Homo sapiens: one gene and its partner. The protein of the gene in region 1 purifies or fractionates together with the protein of each later gene. This does not show direct contact. Each region holds a gene or a part of one and is shown in the gene's direction. Other genes may lie near its edges.

Region 1 (3,956 bases):
ATTTACATGTCTGGCCTTCCACGGCACTGGATACACAACCCCACTAAAGCAGGTGTCACAGTTTACTATAATAACTTGTTAACAGGTTTATTTTCTCCAGTGATCCATGTGCTCTTTTTCAACTTTGAATCCCTAGTACCTAGCACTATGTTTGGCTCCTGCCAGGCAGGCAGTCAGCCTTTGCTGAATGAAAGGACCAGTGATTGAGGTCTGTGGCTACACGGTAAAATGAGAGAGACGAGTCATCAAAGGGAAAAACTGCTTTTTTGTTAACTATAAAGTGAACCAAGGTGTCAGAACAGTTAAAACAAGGATGAAGAGTGCTTTTAGATCTCAATCAATTTTTAAATTACTCGTCACACCTGTCCTAGCTAAAGACTAACTCTAGCACCTCCTGCGGCCTGTTAGTCAGTATTTCACACTTGGGCAGCAGATCCAGCAAATGTTCAATGATCGCAGAAGAAATACTTAGAAGCTATTGGCTTTGAAAATAAAAATGTAAGAAGATGCCTAGTAAAAGCATCTGCTAAATATTCTTCCTGTTTGGCACATTAGACTGCAGTATCAGACACATGACCGTGGTCATACTGTACACAATGCCCAATGTCTGCCAAAACTCTGGCATATGAGAGACTTAGTGCTGGAGTACGGAGGGATTCTTCCGGTATCCCCACTACACACAGTGGTGGAAAGAAGAGCTTCCAGAACAAACCCAGTCAGGCAAAGAGGCAAATACACTGCATTTAGTAACGCTGCTGGAGCCCGCCCTTCACCCTTTCTGAAGGTAGGATACTAAAAGGGCTCAAGCCTAAATCTAATCCAACAAGCTATATTCTGAATAACGACCAATCTCTGATAAAGCTGTTCCCCTAACCCTTCTGCTGCCCGAAACACTCACTCTACAGCCCCTACTGGGCTACCGGGTTCCCCACTGGACTCTGGACAGCGCCGCGCCCTGCTCGGCCTCACCCACCCGGTGGCGCTTGGGCCCGCCCTAGTCCCCCACCCCCACCCCAGGGCACCACCTACCAGGGCCCCGCCCCGCCTCAGCCCCACGTGCGGGGCCCCACCCCGGCGCTAGCGGCCCTTTAAACACCCCCACCCTTACACATTACCCCCCCCCCACCCGGACGGCAGCCGAATAGGGACAAAACTCATGGCGTACAGCCAGTTTCCTCCGCGGAGCACGTCCTGTGCTGCTCCAGCCGTTGGGGCTCTCCACCCCGGGCCACAGCCTCCTGGCGCCCCCCGGGCCGAGGCAGCCGGGCCGAGGAGTGTCGGTGTGGTCCGGCTACGGGGCGGGGCCGGCGGGAGCTCCGGTCGCCGCCGCCGCCGCTGCTGCCTCCGCCTGCCTCTTGGGCCGCCCGCTCGCCCGCCGCTGGGTGCGCTGCACGCGGGGGGCAGCCGTGGTGCAGAGGTTCATGCAGCGGCGGCGGCGGCGGCGGCTGCTGCTGCTGCCGCCGCGGAGGCAGACAGACCGGGCGCTGCCACCGCCGCCCTCCCCCGGCTCCATGCCGCCGCCGCTGCCGCCTCCTCCTCTCCGGCGAGGGGCGGGGGGCTCCGGCCCGGGGTGGGCACCATTCCTCGCAGCGCCGCTCCCCTCCCTGCCCTCCGCCCGGGCGCTGGAGCCGGCGAGGGCACCCGCCGCCTCCTAGGAGTGCACCCTCCGCGCGCCCTGCCGGAGCGAGGGGGCGGGCGTGGGCGGACGTCGGGGCAGCGGGGACCCCGCGCGGCTGCAAGAGGAGGGGGCTTCCCCAAGGATGCCCGGCGGCTCCCCGCTCCTAGGTGCGAGCTGAGTCTGACCGGGAGCGAGCGGCGCGTCGCCATGCCGGCGTGACGGGCGCCCCCGGCTGCCCGCGCGGGCCCCCGCGCTGCCCCACGCCGCGCCGTGCCGGCACCGGGCTGCAGGATGGGCTGTATCCAAAGCATCACCTGCAAGGCGCGGATCCGGCGCGAGAACATCGTGGTGTACGATGTGTGCGCCACCATCGACCAGTGCCCCACGCGCATCGAGGAGACCTCGCCCATCGTCCTGCGCTACAAGACCCCCTACTTCAAAGCCTCCGCCCGCGTGGTCATGCCCCCCATCCCCCGCCACGAGACCTGGGTGGTGGGCTGGATTCAGGCGTGCAATCAGATGGAGTTCTTCAACACCTACAGCGACCTGGGCATGTAAGCGACTCGCCGCGCGGCACGGGAGCGGACTCTGGGCCCCCAGCTCTGCTTGCCACCTTGACCCCCCTCCCCAGCTCCTTCCTACTGCTGTCCCCATCGTCTTTCTAAACCTTCCTCCCGCCTCCTCTCCCACCTCCCTCCTCCCTACGCTTTTGTTTCAGTGACAGGGCGGGTGTAGGGAGGCTCCTTGCGAAGGCATTTTCTCGTGGTTTGCTTCTGACTTCCCAGAAACGCGAGGAGAAAGGTGCGGGGCGGGAAGAACGCGACAAGGAGGGTTCGAGAGGCGGAGGTGGGGATGGCTGGCGAGTGCCTGGCGAGTTTCAGGGCGCCGTCTGTGCTTTGTGGGGCTCCCCGGGAAGAGTTTGGGGGAAACCATAGAGGAGTGGAGTGGAGTGCCGGGGGCGCATGGGCTGTGCCGCGCGTCCTTTGGAGAAACCGGAGCGGGCTTGGAAGAGCAGGTCCCGGGCATCCGAGCGGGAGTTGGTAGTTCTGTCCTTGCCCTCGCGACTGTTGAAGTTTCGAACCCTTGTCCCCCGGGCCAGGGAGCCCGGAGGCGTTTCCGTCTGGAACCACAAGCCGGACACAGTTGCCTCTCTGTTTCCGCGCCCCCTGGACCAGTTCTGGTGGGGAGCTGGAAGGCACCGAGTGCGTCCCGGCCAAGAAGGGCGGATAGCCTTGTGCGAGCAGCGTTCGGCTGGCGCGGCGCGGGGTGTTTCTTATGCTAAAGGAAAGGATGGATCTCTTGTCTGTCTAGGGTCCTTACTTTTTAAAACTTTCCTAATTGCGGCACTGGAAGGGATTCCCCTGGCGCCCACCGCCGAATTCTATCGGCGAGCTGGGAGCTCTCCAACTTTCAGCAGCGCCGGTTGGTGCGCGCCGGGCTTGGCTGCTGCGGTGAAGACCAAGGATCGCCGCGGCTCCTCAACCGCCAGGGGCCGCAGGCTACGGGCGGTCGCGTCCGGGACTTTTATATTTACCAAATTTTCATAACTCCGCACCCGCCTCCTTTCAGAACTAGACTCTGAGCAGGTGGCAACGACAATAGCTAAAAGGTTTAGGGCCTGCCTTCTACCTGCTGTTACAATGTAGGTCTAGAACACCCTAATTAGCCAGTCTGCAGCCTACAGGGAAACCCTTTTTCTGGAAATTCAACCTCATTTCACTTATTAATCTAAAACTCTAGAGCTCCCAAGGTTCGTCTATTTAATATGGATATGGGGTGGGGGAGTTCCCATTTTAAAAGGTCAAACCATCTTTTTAGCAGCAGTTTGCAGGCTTTTTATTGCACTCTGAGAGCATGTCAGTTAACACTAGTCATAGGCGCTAAAAGAAATTTGACAGGTCGTTGTTTTCCTTTTTTCCTCCCAAAGATTTTGCACTTTTCTCTTTAAGCACAAAAGCTTAATCCTTGAGAAAACTCAATTCCTAGTGAAGAAATGTGAGGCCCAGTTTCCAATATGCCTCAGCACACTGTATTCTTCCAGAGAAGACAGCTAGATGTGAGAAATGGGGGATATTTTATTTGGGGCGAATCATGCCATTTAAAAACTGACATACCCTCAAAAGAATGATTATATGTGAACACATGTGTCTCTTAAAACTGCTTTTTAAAATAAATCCATTGTTTCCAGCCAAGTCAGAGAAAGCCACAGGCAGGGCAAGAGCCCTTCCTCTCATTTCCCTGGCCTCACCCTGATGGCAGTGGGTTGCTGGAGGACAGCAAGTGCTCCCCACAGCAGCCTGGGGCCCCTGGTAGAGGAAGCCAGGAGTGACTGTGCAGA
Region 2 (3,500 bases), on another chromosome or scaffold:
GGAAGTTATGGAGGTAGAGGAAAGTGGTCAGATTTTTAATGTGTATTTTAAAAGTGATATTTTCAGCCAGGCACTGTGGCTCACACCTATAATCCCAGCACTTTGGGAGGCTGAAACGGGTGGATCACCTGAGATCAAGAGTTCGAGACCACCCTGGCCAACATGGCGAAATCTGTCTCTACTAAAAATACAAAAATTAGCTAGGTGTGCAGGCGCATGCCTGTAGTCCCAGCTACTCGGGAGGCTGAGGCAGGAGAATCACTTGAATCCGGGAGGCAGAGGTTGCATTGAGCCAAGATTGCACCACTGCACTCCAGCCTGGGCAATAGAGCAAGACTACGTCTCAAATACAAACAAACAAACAAAAGTAATATTTTCAAGACTTGCTGGTGGATTCAGTTTAGATGTGAAAGAAACAAGGATGGTTCCTAGATTTCTGACCTGAGCAATTTTGAGTAAATTGTGGCACCATTACAATCAATTTATACACCATTGATTGGATGAGTTTGCATCAATCAGCAAGATCATGTTGCTCAAGAGTTTAATCATTTTGTAACATAACATGGAGTTTGTTCTATTTTAAAATCCCATTAGGAAGTCCATTGCAGTTTCTTTATTCCAGAGCATAATTAATTAAAATCTGCCTTTTTCCCCCCAGGGATTTGTGATTGAGCTTCTTCTCACATTGGAATCTGCAATTGATACTTTGGCTGAAACCATGAAGCATTATGATCTTCTTTCTGCCCTTTCTCAGTAAGAATTTAAACCAGGCAACCTAATATAGAGAGAACTTGAATAGCTAACTACATATAGCTATAACTTTTAAAATTCTAATATTGTTAGTAAGCACAATACTGCCCAAATTAGATGGATTACCAGTGGGGAGATGGGCCGCAGACAGTGAGGACTTGTGAAAAATCCAAGTGCTGATTTTAGCAGTGCTGTTCTTCTTCTAATGTGCTGGTTAGAGATCTTTCTAATGCACCACTTCATTCCTGCCACATTCAGGATTCAGCATCCTGTTTCTCCCCCAGCTGTCTGGGAGCCTTAAGGCTCTCCCACCTTTCACATATTGTTCCTTCTCCCTGCAGCAGCCTCTCTCCCCACTTTTTCTACCTTGCAAGCCCAGAATTGACTAGTCCTTCAAGTCCCATCCCAAATGTCACTTCCTAGCTAAGCATTTCTAACTCCTTCAGGGTAGTGCTAATTATTCCATCCTTTGGGTTCTCATAGTGATTTTTTCATATTGTAATAATAGCAATTAGCAGGCTATAAATTTATCCATTTACATATCTATCCCCTCTTTCAAAAGACTTGTCTAATATTCCTTCCTTTTCTATACAGCTGGCAAACATAAAAAGCATTCAGTCAATATTTTCTTAATAAAAATTGGATGTGAGGAAGGAGGAGAAATCGAAAATTTTTGAGCTTAGTTCTTTTGAAAAGAGTGTGTCATTGACAGAAATAGGGACATCAGGACCATCAAGTTTGAGGACAAGACAAATGAAGTCAGCTTTGGACATAATGTATGCCTAAATCTCAGAGCTGAACGTTGTTAGCGATTACTATAGCAGAATTTTCTCAGCAAGTAGAGCCTCCTTTCAACTCAAAGGAAACTGTTAGCCACAAGAGAAAAGATACTGTTGTACATTTTCTTTGAATTTGAAGGGAAAACTGAAATTTGATTCAACAAAGTCAGATATACTGAAAAATGATTTTTCTGGTACCAGTTACTATTTTTCAGTGTTTTCAGAAGTAAAATTAATTTAGCAAAAGAAGTGACTGGGTATGCATTCATCTATTCTTTCTTTTTTTTAAGAACCTCATATCATGATCCTATAATGGGAAACAAGTATGCAGCTAACAGGAAAAGCACTGGACAACTCAATCTAAGCACAAGTCCCATTAATAGTAGCAGTTATTTGGGATATAACAGTAATGCAAGAAGTAACTCTTTGAGATTAAGTTTGATTGGTGACCGACGAGGTGACCGGCGGCGGAGTAACACACTGGATATAATGGATGGACGGATAAACCATAGCAGTAGTTTAGCAAGGACTAGAAGCCTTTCCTCTCTAAGAGAGAAAGGAATGTATGACGTGCAGTCCACTACTGAGCCTACCAACTTGATGGCCACCATTTTTTGGATAGCAGCATCTTTATTAGAATCAGATTATGAATATGAATACCTCCTGGCTCTCAGGCTTCTCAACAAACTGCTTATCCATTTGCCTTTGGATAAATCAGAGAGTCGAGAGAAGATTGAAAATGTACAAAGCAAATTGAAATGGACTAATTTTCCAGGACTTCAGCAGCTCTTCCTTAAGGGTTTTACCTCAGCATCTACACAAGAAATGACCGTGCACCTCCTCAGTAAACTCATTTCTGTCTCCAAACATACATTGGTGGATCCTTCCCAATTGTCAGGTGATGTTAATATAATTGCACCAGCACTTTGCATTTTATGCAGTAAAATGTAAACTAATCATTTGTTTTGAAATCTACTAATTTCTGCTTTTTGCAAATAGTCATAGTTTTTATACGCTAGGTAGCTTAAATTATTTGGTAAAAGCCAAAAAAGAATTAGAAGATCGAATATCCCAGGAAATGAAAAGAAAATGGTTTCTGTGAACCATCTAAAAAAATAACTTTAACTTTTAAAATAATGTGCAATAAAATTGGTTATTGTTTGCTTTTTTTTGTTTTGATAGGCTTTCCTCTTAACATCCTTTGCTTATTGCCTCACTTAATCCAGCATTTTGACAGCCCAACTCAGTTTTGCAAAGAAACAGCTAGTCGAATAGCAAAGGTAAGCAAATGTTATGCTGAAAGGTAACACTATAGGGAAATTATTTTGTAGTCTATGTTAAAGGAGGGGGAAATCTCTTAAAACTCCTTTTATTGTCACTTCCCATATGAATTTTGCATTTAAATTTTTATTTTTATGCACATAAAGGACTTGCATAGTAATGGCGTAAGTTACAACTGCTCAAATGACAGTAAATAAAATTATTTAGTTAGAGTAACACTCCTCTGAGTCTGAGTCTTTTTCTGCTCTTTTTCCATACTTCTGCCTCTCTGTCTGTTTCTCATTCATTCGTTTATTTACTACCAAATATTTACTGAGCACTGGGTTAGATGCTACAAATACATGATAAGCAAAGTAGATAGTGTACTTTATCATGGGGAATGCAGTGAAGTAAATAGACAGTAATCAGAGAGTCTGATTTGGTATTTTATCGGGGCAGGGGGAGGGTGGGGGGCAGAATACTCAAGGAGCACACAAAACAGAAGTCTTCCTAGAGGAAGTGATATCTAAGCTGACTTAGATCACTATCGAAGAATGGATAGGAATAAACCAAAGTAAGGTCCCTGGATGAGAGGCAAAGAGTGGAGTTCAGGGTTTGAAGTTTTCTAGGCAGAAGAAATTACAGATGCAGAGGTTCTGAGGAAGAAGAGGGCATAATATATTTTAGGATTTGGAAAATTCTCTGTCCCTT

The links. The genes of interacting proteins can lie anywhere in the genome.
Region 2: the proteins of FAM78B (region 1) and FRYL purify together in Homo sapiens (affinity purification with mass spectrometry; one large-scale study listed by BioGRID and IntAct). This does not show direct contact.

What each region holds. Positions count from the first base shown.
Region 1 is NC_000001.11:166,164,202-166,168,157, reverse strand, and holds the start of FAM78B (protein FAM78B), read left to right. Parts: upstream 1-1,156; 5' UTR 1,157-1,909; coding exon 1,910-2,172; exon of another isoform or gene 2,173-2,281; intron 2,282-3,956.
Region 2 is NC_000004.12:48,539,280-48,542,779, reverse strand, and holds part of FRYL (protein furry homolog-like), read left to right. Parts: intron 1-658; coding exon 659-753; intron 754-1,819; coding exon 1,820-2,427; intron 2,428-2,711; coding exon 2,712-2,809; intron 2,810-3,500. UniProt on the Homo sapiens protein: Plays a key role in maintaining the integrity of polarized cell extensions during morphogenesis, regulates the actin cytoskeleton and plays a key role in patterning sensory neuron dendritic fields by promoting avoidance between homologous dendrites as well as by limiting dendritic branching.